Homo sapiens: one gene and its partners. The protein of the gene in region 3 interacts with the protein of the main gene of each other region in a biochemical or structural test. Each region holds a gene or a part of one and is shown on either strand. Other genes may lie near its edges. The genes, in order: RGS7, GPRASP1 and CHRM1.

Region 1 (10,015 bases), on a different chromosome or scaffold from region 3:
ACCTATGAGATGACCTGTTAAAGGTTTACAGAGTAACAGCTATGAAAACCAGAGGGTAAATGTTAATAGTGGGTATTTTTATAGGTTATTTGTATGACTGACTGTTTCATGTGGAAGATTTGCAGTTAAAAGATAATAAAATGTTGTAATTTTAAGTATTGTAATTACTTGAAAATGTATCAATATATGGTAATGGTTTTCAAAACCCCTCACTCTTTATTTACCCAAATCCTTGTTCCTCTAACCAATTGTAAAAATCACATATGCTGATTTGTAAGTGACTCCATCATCAATAGTTACTTTGTACTCCAAAGCTCTCTTTTAAAGAGTAAGAGGACAAGAGGTTGAGAACATTGTCACACTTCCCACATCCAATGATAGGACATTTTCTTCACAAGAGTGCTTACTCTCGCTTTCTGCAGTGCTGATTTCTCTCTACCTCTTGAAGTTTTTTCTTATCACCACTGGCGTACAGCCATGGAGTCATGCTATACACTACCTCTTTTTTTTAGCATTTGATCAATGGTGTTGACTCCAAGTAATATTTCAAAGCAAACTCCAGTGTCTGAAATCAAATAATCTCATGATTGGTTCAGTTATGGGGCTTTATTCTCATTTTGACTCTTTTCCTCTGATATTTTATTATAATATAGTTTATCAAGAGTGTAAAATATACTTTTCTAGTATATTTACAATAATCAGGAAGGAAAAGTCATTCAGAGCGTTTTTAATTAAAGTTTTCTGTGTGTGATTATTCCATGTGAGCATTTGTCATGAATTGTTGATAAAATTATTCTCAAAACACATATCATTGATACTTTCTTGGTATTAGGAGATAGGATTTATTTTGAAATTATAGTAATAAATACATTTATTTTCTAAATTTGGAGGGAAGTATGATTCTGGATTTAGGTATTCACCATGAATGAACGTTTAAAATCTCTACAATTTTATTTTTTATTTTTTTGAGACAGAATCTTGTTCTGTCACCCAGGCTGGAGTGCAGTGGTGTGATCTCAGCTCACTGCAACCTCTGCTTCAGAGTCCCAGGTGATCCTCCTGCCTCAGCCCCCAGAGTAGCTGGGACTATAGTACCTGCACCACTACACCTGGCTACTTTTTGTATATATTTTTTTACAGACAGGGTCTCACTATGTTGGCCAGGCTGGTCTCGAATTCCTGGGCTCAAGTGATCCACCCACCTTGACCTCCCAAAGTGCTAGGATTACAGGCATGAGCCACTGCACCCAGCAAAATCTCTACAATTTTAAAATAAAATCACATTTTGTTAAAGTAGGCAGAATGGTCAAACTCATTGCTCTTCTAAAGTGATATCAATTGTGTTCAAATTCCAACATTTCATTTTGTTAACTCTTTAAGAGCCCTCTGCTTCTATTTTTTTAACCAACTTTGAAATTGTACTGACGTAGACTATACTCTTGTTCAGAATTGCCCAGCTGATCATGATTTAGAGTGGAAAATTGTGAAAATGTCATTACTTATGTAACTCCTTCTCTAACCCTCTTTTCAGATAAAATATTGGCAAATACAGTTAGATAGACATCGGTTAAAAATGTCAAAAGTCGCTGACAGGTGAGTATTTCAAAGTGTCTGTATAAATTTTAAAATTTCATATGACAATTACATGTGTTTAAAAATGAAAGAGAACTGTGGGGACAGGAGTTGGGACAGATAATTGGAATCCTGTAAGTAATGTGATTTTGTTTTCCTTTTTGCACATAGAAAAACTTTCAAAGAACTCTTTTGATGTAGTTTAAATGACAGAATGATTATAATTGTCTTAAATGTCTAGACATCCAGTCCTTGTTCCACTAAGAATCAGATATAGAGGATAATTCTGCAGAGTCTAGCCTTTTCACTCCTGCTGGAAGACATGAAACTTTCCATTTATTGATGACCTTTGGGCAAACTGGAGCCTCTCTATAAACTTATTTTAACAATGACAATTGACACTGTTCCTGCCTGACTTCAGAATATGAATGAAACTCAAATTTCAGATATTTTCCTTTGCTTCATTTAAATCTGTTCTTAATGCCATTCATATTCTTCACTTTTGGGCATTGCCAAATCCTACCTCCCCAACTTCTTTCCCTTCTCCCTTTTTAAAATTTTTATATACATTTAAAAAACTTGTCAGTGGCTCCCATTTTACTTAATTCCTGTAAATACTTTTGACAAAATTTCCCTTTTAAGCCCTTCTCTCAGTTGTATAAAATCTGTTCTGCTGTGGGTGGACTGATTAACCAAAGATTGGAACTGACTCTTAGCGGTGCCCTTCACACACTGACCTCTTCCATAGTGCTTCATGTTAACCAAGGGATACTGATTTACATGGCTTAGGCATGGGTAGAGATGGAATCTTTAGCCACAGTTGTCTGCCAAGAAGCACAATAAGTTGTTGCATGAAAGTTACTGAAGCGTGAAGATTGCCATTGGATTTCATGCTTTAAGTGAACAAGGATTCCTTGGTCCCACATTTTTATATTGTTTTCCCTGCTTTGGACTGGCTGCAACCCCAGTCAGAAAACTAAAGAAACTGGAAATGTTTTTTCTCCTTAGTCTACTAAGTTACACGGAACAGTATTTAGAATACGACCCGTTTCTTTTGCCACCTGACCCTTCTAACCCATGGCTGTCCGATGACACCACTTTCTGGGAACTTGAGGCAAGGTAGGTGGCATTTTATCTTTCTCGCCCATATGTTGCTTTATTTCAGGGTCTGAGTGAAATGGGAAGGATTTTATTGTTGGCTAATTGTGAATGTAATTTTGTTCTTTATCTACATTGGCCTATATCTAACATTCTTGTTCGAGATCATGGCTTTTGAAACTTAGACATTTGCATTTGCATTAAGATTTGCATTTGCATTAAGATTTGCATTGCTGGAAAGACCGTCCCAAAATTAGAGGTGCAATTAGTCAGAGTTAGGATCTTCAGCTCTTGAAATTTAGCTCATTGCTATTATCTTCCTGGAAAATTCACGTAGCCACAAAGTCTCATGTAGTCAAGTAAAGTGAATGCTAAAGCCATACATACTTAAGCCCAACACAAGTATGTCTTTATAAATTCAATTTTAAGACAGAATGAGCTTACCATAGACACTGTAAGAGAAACTGGCAAGACACTTCCTAAGAAAAGCAAAGCACCACTTAGGACTCCATAGTTTCTTTCATGAGCTATCTAGGGAAAGAACTACATCATCAGTCTTAACAGACTCATAAGAGGATCATGGCGTATCACTTTACAAAGAAAAGATGGGTGCTCTGTCACACTTCTAGCAGTTCTCTAGATTGCATTTCTGGTCTCTCTCACTTTTGCATCCAGCCATGAATCTTAAACACTGGACATGCCCAGAACTCTTCCTCCACAAGCTAAAGATTTTATAGATGAGAAAGCTGGAACCCCAAAATGTTGTGACTCAGTTGGGATTAGGTCACAGATTTAATTGACACCAGAATCATTAGCTAGTATTGAGATCTTTTGGTTACCAATGCATTTTCCCCAGTTCAATATACCTGCATGACCCTGTGTGGCGTAGTGGTTAAGAAATGTGTGCCTGGCATGGTGGCGCACACCTGTAATCCCAACACTTTGGGACGCTTTGGTGGGTGGATCACCTGAGGTCAGGAGTTCGAGACCAGCCTGACCAAAGTGGTGAAACCCCATCTCTACTAAAAATACAAAAAGTAGCCGGGCATAGTGGCAGGTGCCTGTAATACCAGCTACCCGGGAGGCTGAAGCAGGAGACTCTCTTGAACCCGGGAGGTGGAGGTTGCAGTGAGCCGAGATCACGCCATTGCACTCCAACCTGGGTGACAAGAGCAAAACTCCATCTCAAAAAAAAAAAAAAGAAAAAAGAAATGTGGCACTGGGGTCAGAATATCTGGATCTTTACCCCTTATTACTTGCCTGACATTGGCAAGTGATAATACTGTGCCTCACTGTCCTCATCTGGAAAATAATAAGATTAATAGTGGCTATCTCATAAAGTGGTTGGCAAAAACAAAAAGAGACCATTTATGTAAAGTGCCTGGCACATAATGCTCAATAAATGTTAGACTTTATTATTAATACTAATGTACACGATGATTTCATGCAGAGCCGTTAATCGGATATATATATTTTTAAAGAAAAGGTAAAGATGGGAACTTCGAGGCACACATGATTTTGAAGGGGAATGTAATAACAAAAAAATGGGAATTCTAATGAAAGGAATGTATTTGCCTTTGTTTTATCTTCTATAGCAAAGAACCGAGCCAGCAGAGGGTAAAACGATGGGGTTTTGGCATGGACGAGGCATTGAAAGACCCAGTTGGGAGAGAACAGTTCCTTAAATTTCTAGAGTCAGAATTCAGCTCGGAAAATTTAAGGTAAAACACATTGCTTGGATCTTATAAGCCAGAGAAATACTGTCTGTGATGTGTCTGGTTATTTTGGAGGTAATAGATCAATTATTCTTCCACTAACATCATAATGATGTCATGAACCCATTGAATTTCTGCCACCTAATGAAGGGAAAAGAGATAGCAAGGCAAAGGCTGTCCAACGTATCAATTTCTTATAACTTATTTTTACGCCGTCTCTGTATCTCCAGATGTTTTAACTATACAAATTTGGTGGCTTTGAAATGGACTCTGTAAAGAAATGCAGTACAGAGAACAATGTTTGGCAAAGTGGAGATTGGCCAATAACATTTATGAAGTTCAATTAAAATATCACCTATTTGTCATTGTTGACTATCTTTGCGTATCACTTCTCAAGCAAGTTAGAGAAGAAGAGACTGGGCAGCTATATCAAATAACTTGAAACCAAACTATTGGGCTGTCTCATTCTCTTTGCATGTTTAAATAATAGCCACAGGGCAATTGAGAGCAGCACAGCATTGAGCTGTTCGTGAGAGAGTGACACCCATTCTGCCCATCTGTTGTAAACATCATCTTTATATATTTTTAAAACTTGCTAACATAAGGAGGATCTGAAAATTGCATTTTTAAATATAAGACATTAGAGTGGATTTTAATAGCTCTATTTAACATCATTGAAGGGAGTGATAACTTTCCACTATATAAGACTGTTGTTTCATGAGTTCTTTCATTCATTATTCTTTTGAAAGCTGATGCCCAATTTTTACTTTTCCATGACTTATGCAGTCCTGTAAAATTCATTTACTGAAAGTTCTCTGCATTCATTTATTTTCATTGGAACGAAGTAGTGCCAGGCATGGTCACGTTCTTTTCAGGAGATTTAACAGGTAGGAATCCCAAACCATTCAGAAAGATGTAGGACGCTGACACATGTCGCATGGATGAAGCAAAATGACCACAGACAGAACCCGGAGGAATGTAACTCTCTGTGTGTGCCTGGCATGGATTGCTGGCATGCAGCTTCCTATTCTCCTTCCAGTTTATGGGAACCCTTCATGCTTGGGCTTTTGCAAGATCTTGCTGCTAAAGTTGCTAAAGTTCTGTATTGAGACTACTAATAACATTTTCTATATTAGGTCACATTGTCAATAATTGAGTGCAAGAATTCATTAAAAGGCTAGGTGCGAGGGCTCACGCCTATAATCCCAGCACTTTGGGAGCCGAGGCAGGTGGCTCTCTTGAGGCCAGGAATTTGAGAGCAGCCTGGCCAACATGGCAAACTCCATCTCTACAAAAAATTAAAATTAAAATTAACCGGGCATGGTGGCACATGCCTGTAGTGCCAGCTACTGGGGAGGCTGAGGAATGAGAATCGCTTAAACCCAGGAGGTGGAGGTTGCAGTGAGCTGAGATTGCACCACTGCACTCCAGCCTGGGCAACAGAGCAAGACTCTGTCTCAAAAAAAAAAAAAAAAAAAGAATGCATTAAAAATAAAGCAGAGATAAAGGATCCTTGAGGCATTTTAGTGGCTAGGGAGATGGACATTCCTCTCATTCTCTAAGTTTTTGAAAACATGCTGATATCATTTGTATCATCATGAGTAAATAAATAAGTAATAAGCCTTACCAGCCTCACCTAGCCAAATAAAAACATCGCCTTCTCTCATTAAAATTACAGTCTATTGGTAGATACAGACAAGAAAACAAATCACAGCACAAAATCATGGGTGTTTAGTTGGGAGAAGCAGAGAGGGATGCCTAGCCCAGAGTTAGAGATCAGCGAAGGGATACTAGGGGAAATCGCTTCTAGGCTAAGAGCTGGACAATGGGGAGGAGATAAACCATCAAAACAGGAAGAGAGAAGATGCCTTTGGAAAAAGAGGATAGCATGTGCATACTAGGTTTCAGGCATGAATTGAATTCCTGCCAATTTCTTAGTTCAAGCTTTAATCATTTCATATCTTAATCATTCTATGCCGTACTAGACTCTAGGCTAAGTGATTATATCTAAGAAATATTAGATTATCTTATATATATACACACACATTATATACATACACACATATACATATATTTCTTGAGTATCTACTATATTGCCTATCATATGTTTCCTTAGTAAGTATAGATCAGTAGATAAATGAAAGATGTAGATTAATTCTTGAATACCTACAAGACACCAGAATATATTTTATATCTACTACTTTTATAAGTATGCTGTTATATTTTGCATTCATTATTTCTGATCATCACACATCCAACCACCAAAACAACATAAAATGTAAATATTGCCTCATTTTATAGATGAGAAAAGCGTGGCTGAGGAAGGTTAAGCCGAGAAAGTGTGGCTAAGGAGGTCAGATTGCATGTAAGTGGCATTCTTGGTTTCCTACAAACCAGTACCAAGCTACTGTCCACTGCTCCCCAAATCTGAGCCCTACTCTGCTTCCACTGACATATCTGTGTCACACACTGAAGGAGACAAAATGGTCCAGTGGTCAACAGGGCTGTGAATTGCACTTAAAATAAAATAACTCTCCGTGCATCTTACCTAAACAGCTGCCCTCCTGCTATCAGTGAGTGTGTCACTCGTCTGAGCATTTTTTTTCAAATATTAGGACAGGAAAAAAATAAGAAGCACTGTTTCTCGATAACTACTTATGCTTCAAATATACCCTCTGCTCTCCCTAATAGAGAGCAGAAACTTGAAATTTTATGATGTATTTCCCTCATTCTTTTTTTTGAGCAAAACACATAGCATAGAGCAAGTGCTAAGAAAACATAGTAATATCATGAGTTTTTATCTTTGAGTGACTAAAAATATGCCAAGTACTTTTCAGTGCCTTCTATATAATTTATATCATTAGTATACATTAACGGAATTAATTTAATCAACTAATCCAATGGAAACCAATTAATCCAGTGGAAACCCAGTGAAATAGGCGTTATCATCCCATTTTACTGATGAGGAAATCAAGAATCAAAGACATTAAAAATACTTACTTAGCTTCCACCTATATAAAGGATATAGGATTTTTTTTTTTTTTTAAGAGAGATGGGATCTTTCTCTGACACCCAGGCTGCAGTTCAGAGACACTGTCATAGCTCATAGCAGCCTTGAAATCCTGGGCTCAACTGATCCTCCCACCTCAGCCTCCTGAGTAGCTAGGACCACAGGTGCAAGCCATTGCACCTGGCTCCTCCATGCTATTAAGCTATTACAATAATTACAGTAATGGTGAGAATAAGAAAGGCAATGATGCTGTTAGAAAGACCGTGTGAGGGAGTGGTTGTGAGCATGTCATCTGCTGCAGATCTTCTGGGAGCAAACCTCAGCTGTGACAGTAATAGTGAGCAACCTTAAATAAGCAACTTAATCTTCATATGCTTAGTTTCCTCTTCTCTAAAATGAGGGAAATAATAGAACTTGCCTAATAGAATTACTGTGGGAATTAAATGAGTTAATATAGGTGAATCACTTAGAGCAGTGCCTGCACTTACATAACAGTGTAGGTGTGGTTATTAACTTCTCAACCCCTTTATATTTTATGCTTATTTCCAGGCCCATTTCAGATGTCACTGGATTTAGAATAGCTTTGTCTAGATCCCCCTTTTCCAATCCAGCACTTGCCCCAGCAGAGGGGCTCTTTCCTGCTTGCCTTTCCCAGACCGTCTAGTTCGTTCTCTTCCTAGAGAGCCATTCATGTACTTCCTGGTGTTACGGCCAATTAAATGGTTTATCTTTTTCTCTACTCATTCTTTGAGGACAGAGACTGTTTTGATTGATGTGTTCAGAGTGTGCTGGCATGAACTTGCCTGAGCATATGTTAATTTCAACACTTCTGCTCCCTCGGATTATGCGTAGTATTCCCTTTTTTTTTTTTTTTTTTTGAGATGAAGTTTTGCTCTTGTTGCCCAGGCTAGAGTGCAATGGCATGATCTCTGCTCACTGCAACCTCCACTTTCCGGGTTCAAGCGATTCTCGTGCCTCAGCCTCCCGAGTAGCTGGGATTATGGGCATTCGCCACCACACCCAGCTAATTTTTGTATTATTAGTAGAGATGGGGTTTCACCATGTTGGCCAGGCTGATCTCAAACTCCCGACCTCAGGTTATCTGCCCGCCTCAGCCTCCCAAAGTGCTGGGATTACAGACGTGAGCCACCATGCCCAGCCTCGCATAGTATTCCTATTAGAGTGCACAGTGTCTAAATCTGTGTTTTAAGAGGGAAAGGTCTTGAGCCTTCCTTTCTAAAAGTCATGGTGGTAGTTTCCTGTTTGAGGCGTTGTCAAACTTAGATTATCCTCTGCTACATATATCTATAAAAAAACAAAATCTGGAAATGAAAACTCAAAAATCACTAGACTGAGTAGTAGTTGATATTCTAATTCTAGCTCATGCACTTCATTACTGATTTCTGATTATTTATTAATGGTCAAGTTAAAGCTTAGTAGTTACGAAGGTACTGCTGATCACCTGTGCCTCTCTTAAGACTCTGTAGCCTGAAGTTTGCTGTCTCTGTGGCCCTCTTTGCCTTTCTTTGACTTCGTCTACTATTAGAGCAGTAAGAGTGTTTATGGAGGATAACACAGTCCTAGCAGCTCCTTTTTCTAGTAGAGTGTTTGTTTCTATTAACAAATTATGATATACTCATTTATCTTTTAAACATTATTTCTAGAGATCTAACCAGCAAGCTCTAGCCTAGAGCAAAATATTGAAGAAATGCAACCGATTAATACAATGTGGCCCCTTCTCACTAGACTTTACCACTTGCTATTATCAACCAAAACACACTCCCAGGTTCTTTCAGTATACATATGGTATAAATAAGTCTATCTTCAGAAGTAAGTCAGTATATATTATTCCGTGGCTTCTGAATTGCAATGATGCCTCTACACATTTCAACTTTTCAAATAATTCCATGTGAAAGCTTGCTGCTTTGGTCATTCCATAACTCTCTCAATTAAATTACCTTAACATTAGTTAATTGTTTTTATTTTTCCAGCCAGAGCATTTTCTGATCTTATGTCCAGGCCTCTTTTAACTCCAGCAAAGCTTCTTTGTAATTCCCTTACCACCTAGAACAGAAAAGGCTCTCCATACTAGCCCCCATTGCTGAAATGGACAGAACATCCAAAGAACACAGTGTAATGCACAGCTTTATCTCCCAATTGGAGGCTCCATGTCCCACACCTTTAATTCCCTTCAAACTCCTCTTTGTTTTCAATCAACAGTCAGAAGTGCTACTTTCCTTAGGTAAAATCAGTGTTATACGGGGCTCTGACAGATCTGCTTTTAACAACAAACACTTAGAAGAGAGAGTTTTTCATGTTTCTTTATATTTTTATTAATATTTTTTATTTATATTTTTAAAATATTTTTATTAATATTTTTATATTTTTATTAATAATTATTTTTCATAATAATCTTCCAAAGAAGATTATCCTTTGAACACAGTCAGTACCACCCTGATACTGGAAGCCCTCAGAGAAAGTGAGCTGGCTGTGAGTCGTCATGATGAACTGCATGATCCGTAAATGTCACAAGAATTTTCAGATGATGGGCCATCAGAGTAAACACCCGATCTCACATTCTGCATAGATTCTGGCTGGCAGTGGAGGACCTGAAAAAGAG
Region 2 (10,595 bases), on a different chromosome or scaffold from region 3:
GAAAACAGTTTTCTTTCTTCCCAGTCAGTATAACTTTAATTTCTTTTTTCTTGTCTTTATTGCATTAGCTAGGACTTCCATTATGATGTAGAAAAGCAGTGGTGAAAGGGAAAATATCTGCCTCATTCCTGATCTTACTGATAAATCAAGTTTCTCACCATTAAGTATGATGTTAGCTGTAGGTTTTTGGTAAATATCCTTTATCAAGTTGAGGAAGTTCTCCTCTATTTTTAGTTTGCTGAGACAACTTTATTCTTTTATCTGTGGATATCTGGTTCTCTCATTACCACCACCACATATAGAGAACGGACAAGATTTTTAATAAATGGTGATTGCGTCCTCTATTAGTTTGTTTTCATGCTGCTGATAAAGATGTACCCGAAACTGGGAACAAAAAGAGGTTTAATTGGACTTACAGTTCCACATGGCTCAGGAGGCCTCAGAATTATGGCAGGAGGTAAAAGGCACTTCTTACACAGCGGGAGCAAGAGAAAAATGAGGAAGAAACAAAATCAGAAACCCCTGATAAGCCCATAAGATTTTGTGAGTCTTATTCACTATCACAAGAATAACACGGGAGAGACCAATCCCTGATTCAATTACCTCCCTCTGGGTCCTTACCATAACACGTGGGAATTCTGGGAGATACAATTCGAGTTGAGATTTTGGTGGGGACATGGCCAAACCATATCATTTCACCCCTGGCCCCTCCAAATCTCATTTCCTCACATTTTAAAACCAATTATGTCTTCCCAGCAATCCCCCAAAGTCTTAACTCATTTCAGCATCAACCCAAAAGTCCACAGTCCAAAGTCTCATATGAGACAAGGCAAGTCCCTTCTGCCTATGAGCTTGTAAAATCAAAATCAATCTAGTTACTTCCTGGATAAAACGGGGGTGTAGGTATTGGGTAAATACAACCATTCCAAATGGGAGAAATTGGCCAAAACAAAGGGGTTACAGGGCCCATGCAAGTCTGAAATCCAGTGGGGCAGTCAAATTTTAAAGCTCCAAAATGATCTCCTTCAACTCTAGGTCTCACATCCAGGTCATGCAGATGCAAAAAGTGGGTTCCCACAGTCTTGGGCAGCTCTGCCCTGTGGCTTTGCAGGGTACAGCCTCCCTCCTGGCTGCTTACATGGGTTGGCATTATCTGTGGCTTTTCCACGCACACAGTGCAAGCCGTCAGTGGATCTATCATTCTGGGGTCTGGAGGATGGTGGCCCTCTTCTCACAGCTCCACTAGGTGGTGCCTCAGTAGGGACTCTGTGTGAGGGTTCTGACCCCACATTTCCCTTCTGCACTGCCCTAGCAGAGGTTCTCCATGAGGGCCCCACCCCTGCAGCAAACTTTTACCTGGGCATCCAAGCGTTTCTTACATCTTCTGAAATATAGGCAGAGGTTCCCAAACCTCAGTTCTTGACTTCTGTACACCTGCATGCTCAACACCACGTGGAAGCTGCCAAGGCTTGCGGCTTCCACCCTCTGAAGCCACAGCCCAAGCTGTATGTTGGCCCCTTTCAGCCACAGCTGGAGCAGCTGGGACACAGGGCACCAAGTGCCCAGGCTGCACACAGCATGGGGGCCTTGTGCCCAGCCCACAAGAACACTTTTCCTCCTGGGCCTCCAGGCCTGTGATGGGAGGGACTACTGGGAAGTTCTCCGACATGGCCTGGAGACATTTTTCCCATGGTCTTGGGGATTAACATTAGGCTGCTTGCTACTTATGCAAATTTCTGCAGCTGGCTTGAATTTCTTCCCATAAAATGGGTTTTTCTTTCTTATCGCATAGTCAGCCTGCAAATTTTCCAAACTTTTATGCTCTGCTTCTCTTATAAAACTGAATGCCTTTAACAGCATCCAAGTTACCTCTTGAATGCTTTGCTGCTTAGAAATTTCTTCTGCCAGATACCTTAAATCATCTCTCTGAAGTTCAAAGTTCTACAAATCTCTAGGGCAGGGGCAAAATGCTGCCAGTCTCTTTGCCAAAACATAACAAGCGTCACCTTTGCTCCAGTTCCCAACAAGTCCCTCATCTCCATCTGAGACCACCTCAGCCTGAATTTTATTTTCCATATCACTATCAACATTTTGGGCAAAGCCATTCAACAAGTGTCTAGGAAGTTCCAAACTTTCCCACATTTTCCTGTCTTCTTCTGAGCCCTGTTCCAACCTCTGCCTGTTACCCAGTTTCAAAGTCGCTTCCATATTTTGGGGTGTCTTTTGAGCAACACCCCACTCTACCGGTACCAATTTACTGTATTAGTTTGTTTTCACGCTGCTGATAAAGACATACCCGAGACTGGGAAGAAAAAGAGGTTTAATTGGACTTACAGTTCCACATGGCTGGGGAGGCCTCAGAATCATGGCAGGAGGTAAAAGGCACTTCTTACATGGCAGTGACAATATAAAAATGAGGAAGAAGCAAAAATAGAACCCCCTGATAAACCCATCAGATTTTGTGAGACTTATTCACTATCATGAGAATAGCACTGGAAAGACTGGCCCCCATGATTCAATTACCTCCCCCTGGGTCCCTCTCACAACATGTGGGAATTCTGGGAGTTACAATTCGAGTTGAGACTTGGGTGGGGACACAGTCAAACCATATCAAGTCCCATCAATGGAATGTGAGTGGAAATGATGTGAGCATTTCCTCACCATGGATTTTAAGAAGGAAATCAACTACTTCTATTCTCCTTTTTCTCATTTGCTGGCTGGATGCAGGCTGTGGTGAGGCCCTATCATGATGAGGCAGGAAGTGATGGTTAGTTAATGAGAAACAACAACAAAAGGTAGTGTAGTTTTCTCATTATTTTTTCTATTATAGAAAGCAATTTGACATTCCATTAATTTCTAATATTTATTGACATTGTGGAAATTCAGGTTTTCTTCTCCCTGTAAAGCTAATTAGCTCTCCTTGCCAGCTCCTATAGTTCTAAAAATCCTCAAGGGGTATTTCCTATGTCCTGAATTTTTGGGGTTTTCCTGTGATTCTTCCAGTTGTTGCTGCCATTCTAAGCTGTATTGCCAGGCATTTAATGTCCTCTAATTAACTGTTCTCTCTAATTTCCTAACTCCACCTATACACAGGGTTTTCATGATGTCAGATCTGAGTAGTAGTCAAAAGTTTAAATCCATGTTAGAAAGGAGGATATTTTCCTCTCTTTAGGTTATGCTTTATTAATGGGTTCCTTACACTGGAGCATTACAGAGTTTACTTAAAGACAGTTATTTCCTGGATATGTATAAACCTGCCTTTGCTATGACAGATATACAGTTGAGGGTTTGTGTTGGAATAGGCACAAATAGGAGTTCTATAATAATTTCAGTGTTGCTATTAGAATATCTATACTTCCCTAATGGCAAGGCATTGTTCATGGGCTAGGGTCCTTGTGCGTGACTTGGTTTTTCTTCAAGATTAATTCTCTTGAAGTAGACCCCACCCCAAATATGACCTGAAAATATTCTTGGGCCAGGCCTCCCCACCAGTTCTGCAAATGTACCCTGTCTCAAGAAGTAGAGACAGGCTGAGATCTTTCCCATAGCATTTTCAGGCTACACTGAAAATAGACATCTGTTGGGCCAATTTCACCATATAGTTCACCAGACCAACCTCAGCCTAGTTATTCCTGACTACAGGGGACTTTAATTTCTGTGTACAACCTTTGAAACTTTGAGATAGAAGAAGGGGATACATTATAAGAAAACACAGGGTTTGGCTCAGCCTCGACCAAAAGAGAAGTCTCAGAAGGAAGCTTTGCTTGAGGCCCATAAAGGACAGTATAGAGGCAAGTAAAACTAAATAGGCAAAAACAAGTCCATGACCATGGTGATTGAGACAGACAAGAGGAGAACAGGCAAGTGATAGGCTGGTGTGCAAGTTCATGAGCATGCTTGGGGGTGGTGGGTGGGATTTGGAAGAAAACAGTGAGTATGATGAGTGAGCACAGTTGCATCTGTATCATGGACTTAATGCTTATGGATTATTTGGCTCTGACATTTAGATTTCAGTGGTAAGTCAGGGTTACACAGGTGCTAGTGTAGGCACTGAGGAGTAGAAAGATGACTGTTGCAATTTATTGAACTAGAATCAATTATAGGAGGAAATAAATAGTGCTTAGCAGTCAGAGTATCTTATTTCAATCTTTTATTTGCTCAAAGGTTTTAAAAATAATAATCTATTTGATACATACCCATACAAAGCTAACATATGAAAAGCTTAAAGTAGGGCCTTTATCACTTCAATACATACTAACCAATACAAGACCATGTTTTCTAAGAGTACTGACAACAAATTGTCCAACACACATTTTAAAGTCTCACACAGTAAAATTTGTCAGCTTTTGGTAGAACCATTCCTCTGTCAGTAAATATCTTGGAATAAAGATCCTAGCACCTGCAGAATTACCACAGAAGCTTGTGCAAATGTGATTTTGGACATAATTATAAAACAGTAAAGGGGATTGGTGGCTGTATTGGTGAGATGAGCCCTAAAATATTTCTCAGAGACTGAAGCACAGGTAAAGAAAGGCAATGGGAATAGAATTCATCAGGATGGTGAGTGTATTCTGTTCCTACTCCTGCTATTGTTACCAACCAACACAGTGGGTGGGTTCAGTCGTTTGACATCAACCCCATGATCACAGCAAGGATTTAGTAAGGGGATTTATTACTTGTAACGAAGTAATGAGACCACCAGGGATACTTCCCAAAATAATGTCTCCCTGAGATGGGGGCTGGGTCAGGTTTTCATAAGCATTGGGTATTAAGGGTATATCCTGATGGCTTTGGATCTTACAATGAGGTGATGCTGAGAGGCATGATCTGACTGGATCCTGCCATCCAGTGTCCACTTCTTAATTCAGCCCTGGTCCTAATTCAAAACACTTACATTCTCCCTCTGATTGCATGCTTGGTTCATCTGAGGATGCTCAGGTAACATGATCTGAGGGTCCCCGGCAACTGAAAGACAATGCACAACTTTGTTATATAAAAGTTAAACCAGATAGGTCTGGTGCTGCTACCCTGTAACCAGTTACCATACATGGAATGGCTTAAAATAATACCAATTTATTATTATCTTACAGTCCTGGAAGGTTGGAAATCTTCAAAGGGCTTCACCACACTAAAATCAAGATGTTGCCAGAGGAGCTATCCCTCTGGCATTTCTAGGGAAGAATCTGTTTCTTTGTCTTTTCCAGGTTCTGGAGACAGCCTGTATTTCTTGGATCTTGGCTTCCTTCCATCTTCAAAGCCAACGATGACCAGTGTAGACTTTCTATGCTGCTTCAATCTGACATGGAGTCCCTGCCTTCCACATCTAAAGTACCCTTGCAATTACATTGGCCAAGATAACCCAGAATAATCTTAAATTAAACTCAGCTGAATAGCAATCTTAATGATCCTTTGTCAGGTAATATAAAATGGTACATGTTCTGGAGAACAGGACATGGACATCTTTAGGGGACCGTTACCTGCCAAACACAATGAGGGTAGTGTCTAAATGAGTTTTCAAATGGACAACAGTAACAACATCAACTTGGTGTTTAACCACATTGCTCTGTCTGTCCCATGCAGGAAGCAGGGAAAGGAGGGGCTCAAGAGTAGAGGACGGATGTGGGGGTGAAAGAAGAGGATTCAAATGAGCCAGGTTGCTTTGTCTCGGGGAGGGGGGTGCACGGTGGGATCCTCTCCTGAGAATGACTGCTGAAACAATAGGTAGTTGTGGCAGGTGGCGGAGATCCAAGCTGGTTTGATACCAGCCACATTTCCACACTGCCAAATATCATGGCAAGAGAAGACTTGACAGGGAACCGAAGAGAAGCCAGGACCATCCCTACCTGGCGGCATCAAAGAGAGAGGACTGTTATGACCTCCTGCGGGTCCTGACAGGGAAAGGTCCTCTTTTGGGGGCAACTGTGGGGACGGTGCAATGCCAACGTGAGCCACCATTTGAAATGAGAAACAGCGGTGTGGCAGAAAGAAATGAGTCTGGTGCAGACCAGTGGTTGGTTTCCTAGGGTTAGAGGTCTAGGTCTACCTTCTTTTAGAAGAGGGGCAGTGGTGAGTCCTTGATGGGAGCCCCCTGCCCCGGAGTTCACTTAAGAGCAGGTGTACCTTCCTCCCCTGCGTGGCTCCACGAAGCTGGGAAAGAAACGCACAGGACGACCACCCTAGAACCCCGGGCCTGTCTGGACTGAAATCGCCTCTCCCCTCCCACACTGCAGTGCTGACACCCCCTCTCCCATTAACATCCAGGAAGGAGGGTGAGCAGACTAGGGAGGGGGAGAGGGCAAACACCCAGCAGTCCTTATAGGGGGGCGGTTGGGGCGGGGGTGCAGACACACCAAGGGACGGTTTGGTATCCATCCGCTGCTCCCTCCAGCGCGGCTCTTCGCGACCTCGCGATCCTGTCCTCCGCCCGGCCCCGCAGCCGCCCGCCGGTGCCATATATTATAGCAGCGCCAGAAATGTGGTGGTCGTCGCCACGTTAGGGTCCGCGGGGTCCTCCTGAGGCAGCCTGGTGCCAACCCGCAGGCCCCGGCTGGGGCTCGTCCTGGCCCCGCCCACCTCTGGGTCGGAACTATGGTGGTTCTGTGAGGGGGGGCGTCCTGCACTTTCGCGCCGTATCCCTCCGCCCCCCTTCCCGACACCCTCGCGGAGAGCGGTTCTTGCCGCATCCTGCGCAGCCCCTGCCCAGTTTGGTGCAGAGGCGTGGGGGGCGGGACTCGTCTTTGCCATTCGGATCGCTGGGAAAGCGGTGGGAATCCAACTGAAGAGCAGCCAGAGGAGAGCTGAAGAGAGGAGGGGGAGGCCGATGACCTGGGCTCTGGGCCTCTGAAGGCAAGTAGGGGTGCGTGAGGTGGGGGGCCGTGGTGTGGGGGTGGTCCGCCAGGGTGGACCGGCTGGCAACCTGCCCCCCGGACCCTGACAGCCTGGCAACGAGGAGACGATCCGTTCGGAGCCGGGCGCTAGAGAGAGGTGCGCAGTGCCCGAGATCCCTGGCTATGGGGAGGCGGTGACTGGTGCGGGCCAGGCCGGACCAAGGGCTGAGGGGCTGGCTCCAGAGGCACCGTCAGATCGTCTGGAGGAGAACCGCGCTGACCGCTTCCCAGCCAGCTTTGCAGGCGCCCGCGCGCAGCCCTCGACGGTTTCGGTACCGAGAGACGGCTGTGGGGGAGGCTCCTGCGGGAGAAATGGCCAAACGGGAGCCGTGTTGGGGGGCGCCCGGGAGGCAGTTGGGGGGCGCCTGGGGGGGCCCTCGTGGGCCAGCGTCCCAGCTCTGTGCCTAGCCCGTGGGAGGTGGGTCGCGTTCGCTGCTCCGGGCCCTGATTCCGGAAAGGGGCCTGTGGGGCCCCGTGTCCTGGGTGCTGTCCCTTCCCACAGACTCCAGGTTGATGTCAAAGTCTGTCTGCGCGGTAGGTCTGGCGTATTCTGACAGGACACAGTGAGCATCTGTAGAGGAGAGGCTTGAAATAAAGGAGGAGCACGAATATTCCCTGGATTTCTGGAGGTGTGTGGGGATGTGGGGTGGGTGCCAAACACTGGAGAACCGAATCGGGGTGGGGGACTGCGACCAGAGCAGGTCAGGCATCCAGGAGCACCTCTTAATCTTCCCCTCTCTAATGGTGTTCCAGGCGCTTCCCCCACCTTCCATCCCCATCTGCCTCCCCCACCGTCCTAAACTGGGGGCTTGAAAGGGTGAGCTTTGGAGGTAGGGGTGATGAGGGAGACATACTGACAAGTACCAATTCACGACCTGTTTTCTAGAATATGTGGCGCCCTTCCCCCATTTTCTGCTGCGCAGAGCAAGGGGATGTGGCGCACCTAGTGGTGAATCCTCAGAATTGGAGAAGGGAGTAATGAGAAGAGTATGACGTCAAGAGAAGGAGTTGTTATCTCTAGAACCTTGAAGCAGGGCCTAAACAAAACGAGAATATTCCACCAGCAAAACCCCGAATGTTGAAAGACAGATATCAATAATATGGGGATTCTTATCCTTAGCGTTGGTCTCTCTACCAAGGGCTTTACTGCCACCCCTCATTTCCTGTCTTACTTTTTCATCTGTTTGTCCATAGGCCTGCTTTAAGGCTGGCCAGTTCTGCAAGAAAGGCAAGGAGGAGGAGACTGGCTCACACCTCTGGAGGTTGGTGAGAAGGGGGAGGGGGCAATTCAGGGGACAGTTGGAGAAAGAGAGCATGGCAGGTGGCTTTGAGACCAGTGGGTGCAGACCCACTTCTACTCTGCTGGATTTGCACAGTGCCAGCATCCTTTTTATTTCTTGCAGGGGACATGAGATAGGTGTAGGTTGTGTTGTGACTCAGAAAGACCTGAGAGCAGGGACCAGGACACAGGAAACCATAGATACATTGAACCCTTGAATGGGAAGACAGATATTTGTCACAGGAGCCAGAGTGCTTGCCTATCTACCATTCTCCATTCTCTCCTGTATGTTTACTTGTCTGTAGGACCCCCTTCTGTCAGCTGTGGGGCTTGACACTACTTGAACAAGAAAAGGAGGGGGAAACTGCACCACATAAGTGAAGGTTGGTATGAGAGTGGGTATACTTTTGGGCGGGGTAGTGGAGACCAGCATGGGTCCGGGAGTGCTTAGGGTCCAATCTGGGGACTTCTTGGCCCCTCCCATTGCCGACACACTTTCCCACCATTGTTGGACCTGTTTAATAGGAGGCAGCCGGTCCAGAGAGACTTTCTCAAAGCCCAGCTGTCCCACCTAGCATTCAACATCAGTCTCACTGCATATGTCTCTGCATGGGATGACATAATTGGAAGAGACTCAAAGCCCCATTTCATTCTCTCTCCCTAGATCCACCTCCAGTGGCTGCTCTGCTGGTGGTGGGGTTGCTGCTGACAACCACCCTCAACGGGTCTGCACCCATCCAGGAAATCTCTGTCTTCCTCAAGCTTGGTTGTGCCTGTTCTACACTCTATCTGTATTATTGAATTACTGACTGAGACTGTGTTTGGGAAGGAGGCTGAGTGACTACTGGACTGGATATTGACTCTAACTCTTGTTTCCAAGCTTATATCCTCAATCACCTAAAGATCAGAGTGTGAAGAAACAAACCTGTGACAGATCTGTGGTTGAGGTTTAGACTGGGGGAGGAGTATAGTACTGGACTTTCTTTGTAACTTGTACCATGACTGGGGCAGAGATTGAGTCTGGTGCCCAGGTCAAGCCTGAAAAGAAGCCTGGGGAAGAGGTTGTAGGTGGGGCTGAGATAGAGAATGATGTCCCTCTGGTGGTCAGACCCAAGGTTAGGACCCAGGCCCAGATAATGCCTGGGGCAAGGCCCAAGAATAAGTCCAAGGTTATGCCTGGAGCAAGCACCAAAGTTGAGACAAGTGCAGTGGGTGGGGCACGCCCTAAGAGTAAGGCCAAGGCAATACCTGTTTCACGATTTAAGGAAGAAGCCCAGATGTGGGCTCAGCCCAGGTTTGGTGCTGAAAGATTGTCTAAGACAGAGAGAAACTCCCAGACCAATATCATAGCCTCTCCACTTGTCAGTACTGATTCTGTCTTGGTTGCTAAAACAAAGTACCTGTCTGAGGATAGAGAACTGGTTAATACAGACACTGAGAGCTTTCCTAGAAGGAAGGCCCATTACCAAGCAGGATTCCAGCCTTCTTTTAGGTCAAAGGAGGAGACCAATATGGGGTCCTGGTGCTGTCCTAGGCCTACATCCAAACAAGAAGCCTCTCCTAATTCTGATTTCAAATGGGTAGACAAATCTGTGAGTTCCTTGTTCTGGAGTGGAGATGAGGTCACTGCAAAATTTCATCCTGGGAATAGGGTAAAAGACAGTAACAGATCCATGCACATGGCCAATCAAGAGGCTAATACCATGTCTAGGTCCCAAACTAACCAGGAGCTCTATATTGCATCTAGTTCTGGTTCTGAGGATGAGTCTGTTAAGACACCCTGGTTCTGGGCCAGAGATAAAACCAATACCTGGTCTGGGCCCAGGGAAGATCCCAATAGCAGGTCCAGGTTTAGGTCTAAGAAAGAAGTCTATGTTGAATCAAGTTCTGGATCTGAGCATGAAGACCATTTGGAGTCCTGGTTTGGGGCTGGAAAGGAGGCCAAATTCAGGTCCAAAATGAGAGCTGGGAAGGAGGCCAATAACAGGGCCAGGCACAGGGCCAAGCGAGAAGCTTGCATTGATTTCATGCCTGGGTCTATAGATGTAATTAAAAAAGAGTCCTGTTTCTGGCCTGAAGAAAATGCTAATACCTTTTCAAGGCCCATGATCAAGAAAGAGGCCAGGGCCAGAGCAATGACAAAGGAAGAGGCCAAAACCAAGGCCCGAGCCAGGGCCAAGCAAGAAGCCAGGTCAGAGGAGGAAGCCCTCATTGGGACCTGGTTCTGGGCTACAGACGAGTCCAGCATGGCAGATGAAGCCAGCATAGAGTCCAGTCTACAAGTGGAGGATGAGTCCATAATTGGGAGTTGGTTCTGGACTGAAGAAGAGGCCAGTATGGGGACTGGGGCTAGCAGTAAATCCAGACCAAGGACTGATGGGGAGCGTATTGGTGATTCCTTATTTGGGGCTAGGGAAAAGACCAGTATG
Region 3 (10,021 bases):
TTCGTCATCGTGGGCTTCAAGCTTTGGCCTCCGCCTCGGGGGGTGGTGGGGGGGAGACTCGAGGACTCGGCGTCCAGGGAACTGGGAGAGGAAGCCAGCAAGGGAAGGAAGGGTGAAACTTCGCCGGGCTGGGAGCACGGGGACCCTGAAATCCGCACTGCCTCACCCGGGTCACGACCCTGGACGAGCGGATTCCACTGTACAGAGTTGGGGGTTGCCTTGAGACCTGGACCTGTTCTGACCCCAAATTCCCGTCCGAAGCTCCGCCGGGCTCCAGCAGTTTCACGTGGGACCTACACCCGCCTGGGCCCGGGCGCGTACACCCTGTGGCGGAAAGCTGAGGAGCCCAATGTCCGCAGACCCAGCGAAGCAGGGTCGACGCCGTGAATCAGGTGTTTCGAGAAGCGAGGGGCGCGAGCTTCCATAGTGCGGGGGAAGGTGCCTGCTTCCTGCGTCGGGGCCGCACTTTCACGGTACATCCAACTCCAAGGCGGCAACCAGTGGCCTGGACTTCCAGGTTGTGTCCTCATAGGCGGGGACAGAGGACGCTTAGGGATGCCCTGTGGGAACGCAGCTCCTCTCCACGGCCCGGTCCAGCGGGGAGTCCGAAACGCCACGTTGCGTTATCTCAGTTCCCAGCATTCACTACCCCTGGCAGGACCCCGGGCGCCGAGTCAACTCAGCGGAGTCTCCGGCCGGGCTATAAGGACCCGGGAACGGCAGGAAAACACGCGAGGCGCCGCTTTCGCGACCGCCCCAAACCCATCTTTTCTTCGGGAACTGCCCGCAAGACTTGGGGCTGGGGAGTGGAGCTGCTTCTCCGCACTCCCACTGCCCTCCGGAGCCCAGCACGTAGCCGGGCAGGAAAGGTGAAGCGTCTACAAGGCCTCAATTTCGAAACCGGACTCGGAAAATCCCGATTTCCTGTCCCAATAAGATGCCTTTATTGTGGCCGCGTCCGCTCTCGCCTCGGACGGCGGGGACTCTGGGGGCCCCTTACTGGGCCTGCTCTATACGCAGCCCCGCCCTGGATTTGAGTTTCTTGTTTTACATCTGGGAATTAGTCTCTCCAGGAGTCCTGGCGGGAGGGAGTGGGGGGAGAGAGGAAGTTGAGGACCTAAGGCCATTGAAGGTGAAGATGCGAGGAGGGGCGCCCTTAGGCCGACCCGCTGCCTCCCACCCGGACTCAGAATGTGTGCCCCAGGACAGAGGAAGCGGCACTGTAAAAGTGGCACATTTAGCTGGGTTTGAGTTTCTGACACGGATTAAAACCAAGGGCGGAGACTTACACTCCGGGTCTGCAGCGCACTCCCGGAGCCTGCTCATTCATTCCTCCACCCACCTGCGGCCTTGCCGGACCCTGGGAATCTTAAAAATGCTGTCCCACAGTCCCTGCCGTCTCTGGAACTGCAGCAGGTGCTCAGCCCCAGGATGGCTCCAGGCGCACTGACCTCATCCTCCATGAAACCACAGGGACCCACGCCTCTTGTAAATCTACTCATCTGTAAAATGGGAATAATGGAACCTCCCTCATAGAGTTGTGAAAGTAAATTAAAGAATATAGGCCGGGCGCTGTGGCTCACGCGTGTAATCCCAGCACTTTGGGAGGCCGAGGCGGGTGGATCAGGAGGTCAGCATATCAAGACTATCCTGGCTAACAAGGTGAAACCCCGTCTCTACTAAAAATACAAAAAATTAGCAGGGCGTGGTGGCATGCGCCCGTGGTCCCAGCTACTCGGGAGGCTGAGGCGGGAGAGTCGCTTGAACCCGGGAGGCAGAGGTTGCAGTGAGCCGAGATCGCACCACTGCACTCCAGCCTGGAGGAAAGAGCGAGACTCCGTCTCAAAAAAAACAATAAAATAAAATAAAATAATAAGAATATAGAGGCCGGGCGGATGCGGTGACTCACGCCTGTAATCCCAGCACTTTGGGAGGCCAAGGTGGGTGGATTATTTGAGGTCAGGAGTTCGAGACCAGCCTGGCCAACATAGCGAAACCCCGTCTCTACTAAAAATACAAAAATTAGCTGGGCGGTAGTGGCGCGCGCCTGTAATCCCATCTACTCGGGAGGCTGAGGCAGGAGAATCCCTTGAGCCTGGGAGGCGGAGGTTGCCGGTAAGCCGAGATCACGCCACTGTACTACAGCTTGGGCGACAGAGTGAGACCCTGTCTCACAAATATATATATATATATATATATATATATATATATAGAGAGAGAGAGAGAGAGAGAGAGAGAGAGAGAGAGAGAGCACTTAGCAGTTCCTGACACATAGTAAGTGCTCAATAAGTGTTATAAAAAAGAACTGCCGGACGCGGTGGCTCAGTAATCCCAGCACTTTAGAAAGCTGAGGGGGGCGGAGGCGGGCGGATCACTTCAGCTCAGGAGTTCAAGACCAGCCTGGCCAACATGGTGAAACCCTGTCAATAAAAAATTTAAAAAAAAAAAAAAAAAAAAAAAAAGCCAGTGGGGTGGCGCGCGCCTGTAGTCCCAGCTACTCAGAGTGGGTGAGGGGGTAGGGCTGCGGTGGGAGGATCGCTTGAGCCCGGCAGGCAATTGCAGTGAGCTCTGATCGCGCCACTGCACTCCAGCTTGGCCAAGAGACCGAAACCCTGTATTAAAAAAAAAAAAAAAAACCGCAGTGATGGCTTTCACTTTTTGCAGACGCACGTGCCACGTTTTACCTGCAGAAGCTCAACTAACCCGTCAAACAGCCTGGTCGGGGAGGTATTTCTACCCTTCTTGTCACTGATGAAGAAACTGAGACCTAGAGAGGGGGCCTAGCTTGCTCAGGCCGCTTCAACTAGAAAAAGGCCAAGCTGAATTCGCATTCAGGGCACTCTCCTCTTGCACAGTAAGGGGGCCGAGACTGGGGCCGAGCCGCGCAAGGGCGACTCCACGTTCCCTTGGTGGCCTGGAGGACTGAATTCTCGACCAGGCGACCAAAAATAACAACCAGCAGGAGCCGAGACCCGAGAGTCAGACCCCACCCAACCCAGCCAGAAATGAGGGAGAACTGGAGGGGGTCGCGCGGGGGCGGGGCCAAAGCCCCACGTGCGCCGCCTGCAGCCGCTTCAAGAAGCCCTTTGTCGCGAGCAGCCGCGTTCGTGCCGCACTCGGAGGCTTAAAATAAAGACAATGTTCCCAGCCTCCCTGCGGCTAAATCGGGCGCGAGTGCGGGGGTGGTGAGCGAGCCGGGCGGGAGCGCTTCTCCAGGCCGTACCTCTCTTCTCCCCTCCTGCCTCAGTTTCCCCATCTGATAAGGGTGAGCTAGCCAAGTCTGGGCGGGGACGTCAGAAGAGTGATACAGTGGTGGGGGTGGCGGGGGGCGTCATCCCCCTGCGTCCGCGACTGCACAGACTTCAGAAGAAAGCCGCGTGGGACAGAGGGGGGCACTCAGGAGGAGGCAGGGGAAAGCTGGACACCCTCCCCACCCGCCCACAAAATAAGTGTTTTTATTTCTAAAGGGACGTGTGCAGAGGCGGTGGGAGAAGAGAAAAGGGAGACCAAGGAGACTGGGGGGAGGTGGCAAAGAGGGAGCCTGATTCAGATTCGGAAATGGATGTTGAGCGTGGAGGCCTAACACCCCCACACTCAGCCACGTGTACGCGCACAAGTACACGCAGCCCCACCGCGCCGCCCAAGCCGCAGCCGCAAACCCAGGGCAGCCCAGCAGGGGGCATCCCGAGTCCGCGCCCAAGGGTAGGGACTGGTCAAGTTCTGACCCAACCCTGACCGGCTGGGTGACCCTGGGATGGAAAGGGGATGCTCACTTAGATTTCTCTCCAAGCTGCAGCGTCTGCTTGACTTCAGCAGGGAGGAGGACTGGGTGCCTGCTGGAACCCCAGCTGGCTTTGAGAAGCACAGATGCCCCCACATGTACCTGCCACGTGTGCCCACCAGTAGCTGCTGACCAAACCCCAGGAACTCCAGTTTCAGCTCCACTTGGCTCCATTGGCCAACTGGGCTCCTGGGTGAGAAAGCCCCAGGTTACCCTCAGGCACCAGCATTGGCGGGGTTGTGGGGGCGGGGGGCGGCGCTTGGTGGGGAAATGAGTAGGGGAAACCCCTGCCCCAGACTCCAGAGCCCTGGGCTTAGAGCCAAGTGACCTGAGCCCAAACACCTGCCCACCACATGCTAATCATACCTCTGCTCTTCAGATTTCTCACCTACAAAATGGGGATAATTGATGCTCCCATTCCTTCCCACCTCTCACCCCAAGACTTCGACACAGCCCAGTGGGCAAAGAACACAGCAGCCCCAGAAGGCAGTCCCTGCAGCCTCCAACTCTCCTCCCCAGTCAGCTCCCGGGGAGGTCTCTAGGGCCAAACAGAGGCGGTGCAGGACCCACATCTCTAGGGCAAACGGCCCCCCAGGGGTTCTATCTCTGAGGAAGCTCAACACAGAAGTCCAGACCAGCCTGGCAGGGAGGGATGCTGGCCTCACCCAGTAGGGCTGAGGGAGATTGGGAGGAGGGCTCATCTCCTCCCAGGTACACACCTGTGAGCCCTGAGTGGGAGTCAGGGGAGACAGAGCTTGACAAGCTGGGAGGAGAGCTGTCTGTCTGCCTGTCTGTCTTCCAAGTGGAAGCTTGGGGTGGAGCAGGCAGGTAGAGGCTGCCTCACTTGTCAGAATTAGCAAGTTCCACAGTTGGGCAACACTCAGCCACACATCAGATACAGACACACGTGTGCACACGCGTCCTGCCTCCAGACTGATAGGGTCACACCTGCACTTACACAGGCTGCATGGTGACATGAGTACACAGGGACACACATATGCAAGGCACTCAGCCGCACATGGGGCAGGCACCTGGCCCTCTACTCATCCCCGAAAAGCAGACACCCATATACCCTCACAACAGGCTATGCATAGCCCAATGCTAGCGCACACAGCCCAGCATGCGGGCACGTTCACTCAGCCCCCGGGCGGGTGCGCCAGCCCTCTGGGTCTGTTCCAAGTTGGAGCCTCTCACGTGAGGCCCAATGTGTCATTTCCAAACAGAAGGAATCTAGCTCTCTCACAGCAGGGAGGAAGAGCAGGGTGTGTAGTTGGGTGGGTGGGTGCGTGGGCATGTGCAGGGGGGAGGGCGTGTGTGCGAGGGAAGCAGGCATGTGAATACCAGGGCATGTGTGTTGGGGCATGGTGCACAGGGGCTGGGGGCTCTAAGGTTGGGTGGGGGGAGGAGCCCAAGGAAACAGTGTGCCTTTGTGAGGGTGTGTGTGCCGCCGGGTCTGTGCAGTGGGTGTGGGTGTTTGTCTCCCTGTATCCGCCTTCTCTCCCGTCCGGGACTTTTAGCCTTCCTGGGCTCGCCTTCCTCATGTCCTTTCTCCTCCCTCTTGGGGCTCAAATTGGGTGCCCTGGTGAAGGAGGGGGGCACACTCCAGAACCTAGTCCAACCCCAGACGCTGCCTGAGGCTTCCCTCCAGCTCCCCTCCCTTCCTTTTCTCCCTTTCCTCCCTCCCTCTCTTTCCCTTTCTCCCTCCCCGCTAAGGCTGGCGTGCCAGGGGGTGGGACATGCCAATCACTGGCTGTGCCTCTCCCGCTGCCAGCACAGGGCGCAGCTCCCCCTGGGAGCCAGGTGTTTGGGTCCCTGGAGACGCCGCAGGCCCCCAGGGAGGCAGTGGGGCTGAGGACCCTACAGACCCCTCTTCAGCCCCGTGGTGAGTACATTTGGGAGGGCTTGGGAGGGGCTGCACTAAGGTAGAGGGTAGGAGGGTCCTGGGGAGCGGGGGAGGGCAGGGATCAGGATGAGATGGAAATAGGGATGGACTCACAGAGATAGGAGGAGGCCAGGGAGGGGTCTAGAGGGCAAGGGGGCTCTGTAGCATTGAACACTGACTGCTCCAAACACTCGGCCTCCTGGCTTTGAGTGGATATAGCTGATGTTTTTCTGGGCTTCTGCTGGCAGAGGAGATGGAGATCCCCCTCAGGAAACTGGACCTGAGGCCCAGAAGGGATTAGGCTGCCTGGTAGCAAGCAGAACCCCCAACACCCTAGGGGCAGAGTGGGAAGGGCAAAGGGCCAGGAAGCAGCCCTTGCCACCAGCATCCTGTGGGAGGTTGACCCCCATCTTGATGGGGGTGCCAGTCCCAGAACCTCCTGTCCTCCCTCAGGGCACCCTGAAACCCACCACCCCCGTCCACCTCAGCTCCCCCAAGATGGACTGAATCAGGCTGCTGGCCAGATAGAGAAGCTAGAAGCCAAGGTGGGTGTCAGGCCAGAAGCCAGCAGGAGACCAGGCAAAGAGCCCCAGGGCTCTTTGGGGACAAATGGGCATGTGGGTGGCCACACTAGCCAGGGAAGGTGGCCCTGACGTGCGCAGGGGCCCAGAGGACCCTCCTTATGTTTCTAGTATCTTGGGCTCCCGCAGGGTGGGTCTCAGTCCTATATCCAGGCAATGCATGGATACCAATGGGCACCCACGCCAGGTACTCACCCCAGTGCCCGCAGACTGCACAACATGGGGATGGGCTAGGGGCCAGGAACTCTGATGCTTGTAGAGTTGTCAGCTCCTGGGCAGGCCAGCTGGGGAGGGGGTCGTCAGCTCTCATTAGGTCATCCAGACATGTGCAGCTTAGAGGTTATCAGAGCCAATGGAGAGGGGTTCACATCTTTGCACAAAACACACCTGCAGCTCCACCCAGACTGACCCAAGACCCCTGCCCAACTGGCTGGAAGGAGTCAGGCAGTCTCCAGTAGCCAGACAGTCTCCTTTCTCAGGGTAATCAGCTGTTCAGTGGGCTGTCAGATGAGAGTTCTCTGCCCTCTGACCTCAGCCACCAGGCAAGCTGCAGTCGCTATCGCGGCTGAGATATGAAAGGGAAGGAGATAGTGAAATGGGCTGCAGAAGATGTGGGTCTTGGCTCGCAGCTGACAGCTGGCGGTTGGAGTTCTGAGAACTGGATTCTGAAGTGTAATGGGGAGTCCAAAGTGTCAAGAAGGGGCTAACCAGAGGTCATGTCAGACCTAGAAAGGAGGCTTTCTATTGTATGGAGGGACTGAGGCTGAGAAAGGGAAAGGGACATGCTCATGGTCGGAGAAGGGATATGTAGGGATCCAGCTGGGGCTCGGACCCCTTCTCCGCATCCTCAGCACAACACTGCGCTGCCGCCTCCATGAGCAGGAAGATGGGGTGGGAGAGCAGGGGGCGCAGTAAGCTCTGAGACGCAGAAGCTTGGGCTCCCAGCAGGCGGGGAGAGGTGGGTGAATTGCGCTGGGTTTCTGCTCTGCTGTGGTGCCATGGTGATGCCTACAAGGATGGAGGAGGGAGGGAGAGAGAAGAAAGGAAATGAGGAGGAGAGTGCAAGGAGCCAGGAGCAGGGGGCTTGCGGAGAGGAGGATGAGGGACCCAGAACCTCTGATGCCACACTGGCAGAGTGAGGTCTAGGGTCCAGCTGCTCATGCCCAGGCTCTGTCATGGTCTGGCCAAAGTCAGGCAACTGCTTAAGATCCATCATGGGTGAGCAAATTTGGCAGTGATTCTAGGGCTGATGCTTCTCTTCCAGCTAAGCAGTGTGTTTCATGTAGCATTTAACTGATGGCTGCTGCCCTCCACAAGACTAGTTGGCCCTCCCAATGGCAACTGTTGAGCCTTAAAAATGTGATAAATTCTGTTTACTCCCTCATTCTCAAAGCCAGACATCAGGGGTGGAAGTTTTGTGCACCTTAATGGGTCAAGAGCTGCTGTCAAAGAAAAGTTAACCCCGAGGGGAGAGCTGCCTCGTATGGGCTGGCTTCTGGGGTCAGGCCCTAGCAGAAGGGATCAGTGAGTAGACCTGGCCAGAAGGAGCGCCCTCCTCATTGCATATGTGAGGCCTCAGGTGCCCAACCCCACAGCCCCCTCCACATACCTCCCACTCCCCAATGTTATCCCCTCTTCCTAACCAGGACTCTACCAGCTTCCAGGCCCAGAATCACAAGATGGCTCCGCTCCTCCCTCCTAAATATCTTCCCCAGCATCCCCTCATTCCCTCCCTCCCCTTCTGTACTCTTTGGCCAGCGGTACGTTCAGAAAAGCCTGGTGTTCAGGAATCCCTCTCCCCATTTCCCTTTCCCTGCCTCCCCCAGTGGTTCTCTCCACTCCCAGTTGCTCTCACAAGCCAGATCCCCAGCCCCTAGGGATTGGTCCTGGGCGCTGGGAGTCAACAGTCTGGCCTGCTGTAATAAAGGCTCTGACCTCATCCCTTAACCCTTTGAGCCCAGGCTAACATTCTCCTCTCCCCAGTGACAAATGCTTTGGCACGTCCATGTCTGTCCTGGCACCTCACTTAGCTTCCCTGCAGCCGGGTGAGGCAGGGTTTCCTTGGTCCACTTTACAGACAAGGATGCTCTTGGCTGTTTTTCTCCTATGCTCTCCAGCCAGGCAGGGCCTCACTCAGGGAAGCAGGGACCTGGCAGATGAGATGTGGGAGCTCAAGGGAGAAGAGGGGCCTCTGGACCATGCTCTGGACCTGGTCCTGACCCCCACAGGTTCACCCTCAGGCTCCAGGGTCTGAAGTTGAGTACACACACGTACATTTATTCCACAGGTATTTATTGAGCAACTACTATCTGCCAAGCCCTGGGATAAAGCATTGAATGAGACAGACGCAGCCCTTACCCTGCCCTTTAAAGAGCTCCAGTAGACCCACCCTCTTCCCACAGCACTGTTATCACACATCACACAGATATACGACAGACACTGCCGCGCACACAAAGGAGGCCAGATTCTGAAAGAAGGACCGATTGCTCATCGTTAACTGATTCAAAGTTGGGCTTGAGTAAGCTAGCTGAGGTGGGCAAGGAGGCTGGCAAACCCCCGCAACCCCTCAAGGGCAGGAGTAGGGTTCAAGAGGTTGGTCTCGGAGGCAGACGGCCTGGATCCAAATCCTGGTTGCATCGCTGATGAGCTGTAAGGTCCTTCAGGTCTTGAAGCCTCAGGTTAGGCCTTTTGCAAACTGGGGATAGCAGGACCTACTTCACAAGGAGTTGTAACAGGTAGATTAGATCGAGTTTATAATGTTTATGTATATAATGCTTAGAGCCATGTCTGGTATATAGTATGCAGCCAGTAAATACCAGTTACTATAATATGAGTAATTTTTCTTTGCTGCTATTATGTGTAAGGAGTATTAGTGATAGTATTAAAGCCTTCTAACAGCCTTCATCAGGAGGCCACAGTCCTGGAGAGAAGCCCCTCCTTGCTTCCTCACTATCTTCCTGAACTCCAGGTGAAACACCCTCTGAGGATGAGTCCCCACAAAGCTATGGACCCACCTCCACCATTCCCAGCCTTGCTCAGCAATGCATATACCCTCACACACAAACACTCATCCTAGGAGTTCACCCCATTCCACAGAAGGGCCACCAGGTCAGGACGGTCATTTACCCAAGGTCACATAGCAAGACAAGAGCTGGCAGCTAGGCAGAGGCAGTGCCAAGGACTGCCTCGGGGGGTCTTCCTGCTGCCCACTGCAATCCCCATTGACAAACTCACTGCATATGTGAGCCCCAGCCCCCATGGATGCCTTCACAGGACGTGCCCTGCAAATGCAGCTTCAAGCCCCCTTTTCAACCAGCTGGCTGTCCTAAGTCCCTCCTTCTTTAGGGATTCTAGAGCTACCACTGAACCCCATACCCTAATCCTCAGCCTAGGGCTGGTCTCCCCAGGGGAATCTGCCACAATCATGGGAAACCAGATTCTTTCACAGCCACCATCTCACTGATCCCACAGGAACCTTGGACAGGTAGAAGACTGCCCCACATCGACAGTTAAGGAGACTTGGACAAGGTCACACAGAAGGGACTAGAGCACGTCTCCAGGAATCTTCTCCTGAGCTCTTTCTCTGTCCAAGAGAGGGCTGGGGGTGAGGACCTCTGCTTCTGATATAGAGGAAAGGCAGTCATTCATTGATGGGTCTGTTCTTGTACTGCGTCATAGGGGGCAGAAGATCTAGACGGTGGCAAGAATCAGGTTCCAATTCTCTGGAACCTCTGGTGACTTCTCTACCTGCCACCTGCCCCAGGTGAGAGGCCTTAG

The links.
Region 1: the proteins of CHRM1 (region 3) and RGS7 form a complex in vitro, tested with the Homo sapiens proteins (one study listed by BioGRID).
Region 2: the proteins of CHRM1 (region 3) and GPRASP1 form a complex in vitro, tested with the Homo sapiens proteins (one study listed by BioGRID and IntAct).

The regions. Positions count from the first base shown.
Region 1 is NC_000001.11:240,806,294-240,816,308, reverse strand, and holds part of RGS7 (regulator of G-protein signaling 7), read left to right. Parts: intron 1-1,531; coding exon 1,532-1,593; intron 1,594-2,580; coding exon 2,581-2,691; intron 2,692-4,265; coding exon 4,266-4,391; intron 4,392-9,982; coding exon 9,983-10,015. UniProt on the Homo sapiens protein: GTPase activator component of the RGS7-GNB5 complex that regulates G protein-coupled receptor signaling cascades.
Region 2 is NC_000023.11:102,644,750-102,655,344, forward strand, and holds the start of GPRASP1 (G-protein coupled receptor-associated sorting protein 1), read left to right. Parts: upstream 1-6,733; 5' UTR 6,734-6,846; intron 6,847-6,937; 5' UTR 6,938-6,984; intron 6,985-7,425; 5' UTR 7,426-7,516; intron 7,517-8,081; 5' UTR 8,082-8,149; intron 8,150-8,471; 5' UTR 8,472-8,549; intron 8,550-8,830; 5' UTR 8,831-9,164; coding exon 9,165-10,595. UniProt on the Homo sapiens protein: Modulates lysosomal sorting and functional down-regulation of a variety of G-protein coupled receptors. Targets receptors for degradation in lysosomes via its interaction with BECN2.
Region 3 is NC_000011.10:62,916,860-62,926,880, reverse strand, and holds the start of CHRM1 (muscarinic acetylcholine receptor M1), read left to right. Parts: upstream 1-5,517; 5' UTR 5,518-5,663; intron 5,664-6,439; exon of another isoform or gene 6,440-6,721; intron 6,722-8,519; exon of another isoform or gene 8,520-8,955; intron 8,956-10,021. UniProt on the Homo sapiens protein: The muscarinic acetylcholine receptor mediates various cellular responses, including inhibition of adenylate cyclase, breakdown of phosphoinositides and modulation of potassium channels through the action of G proteins.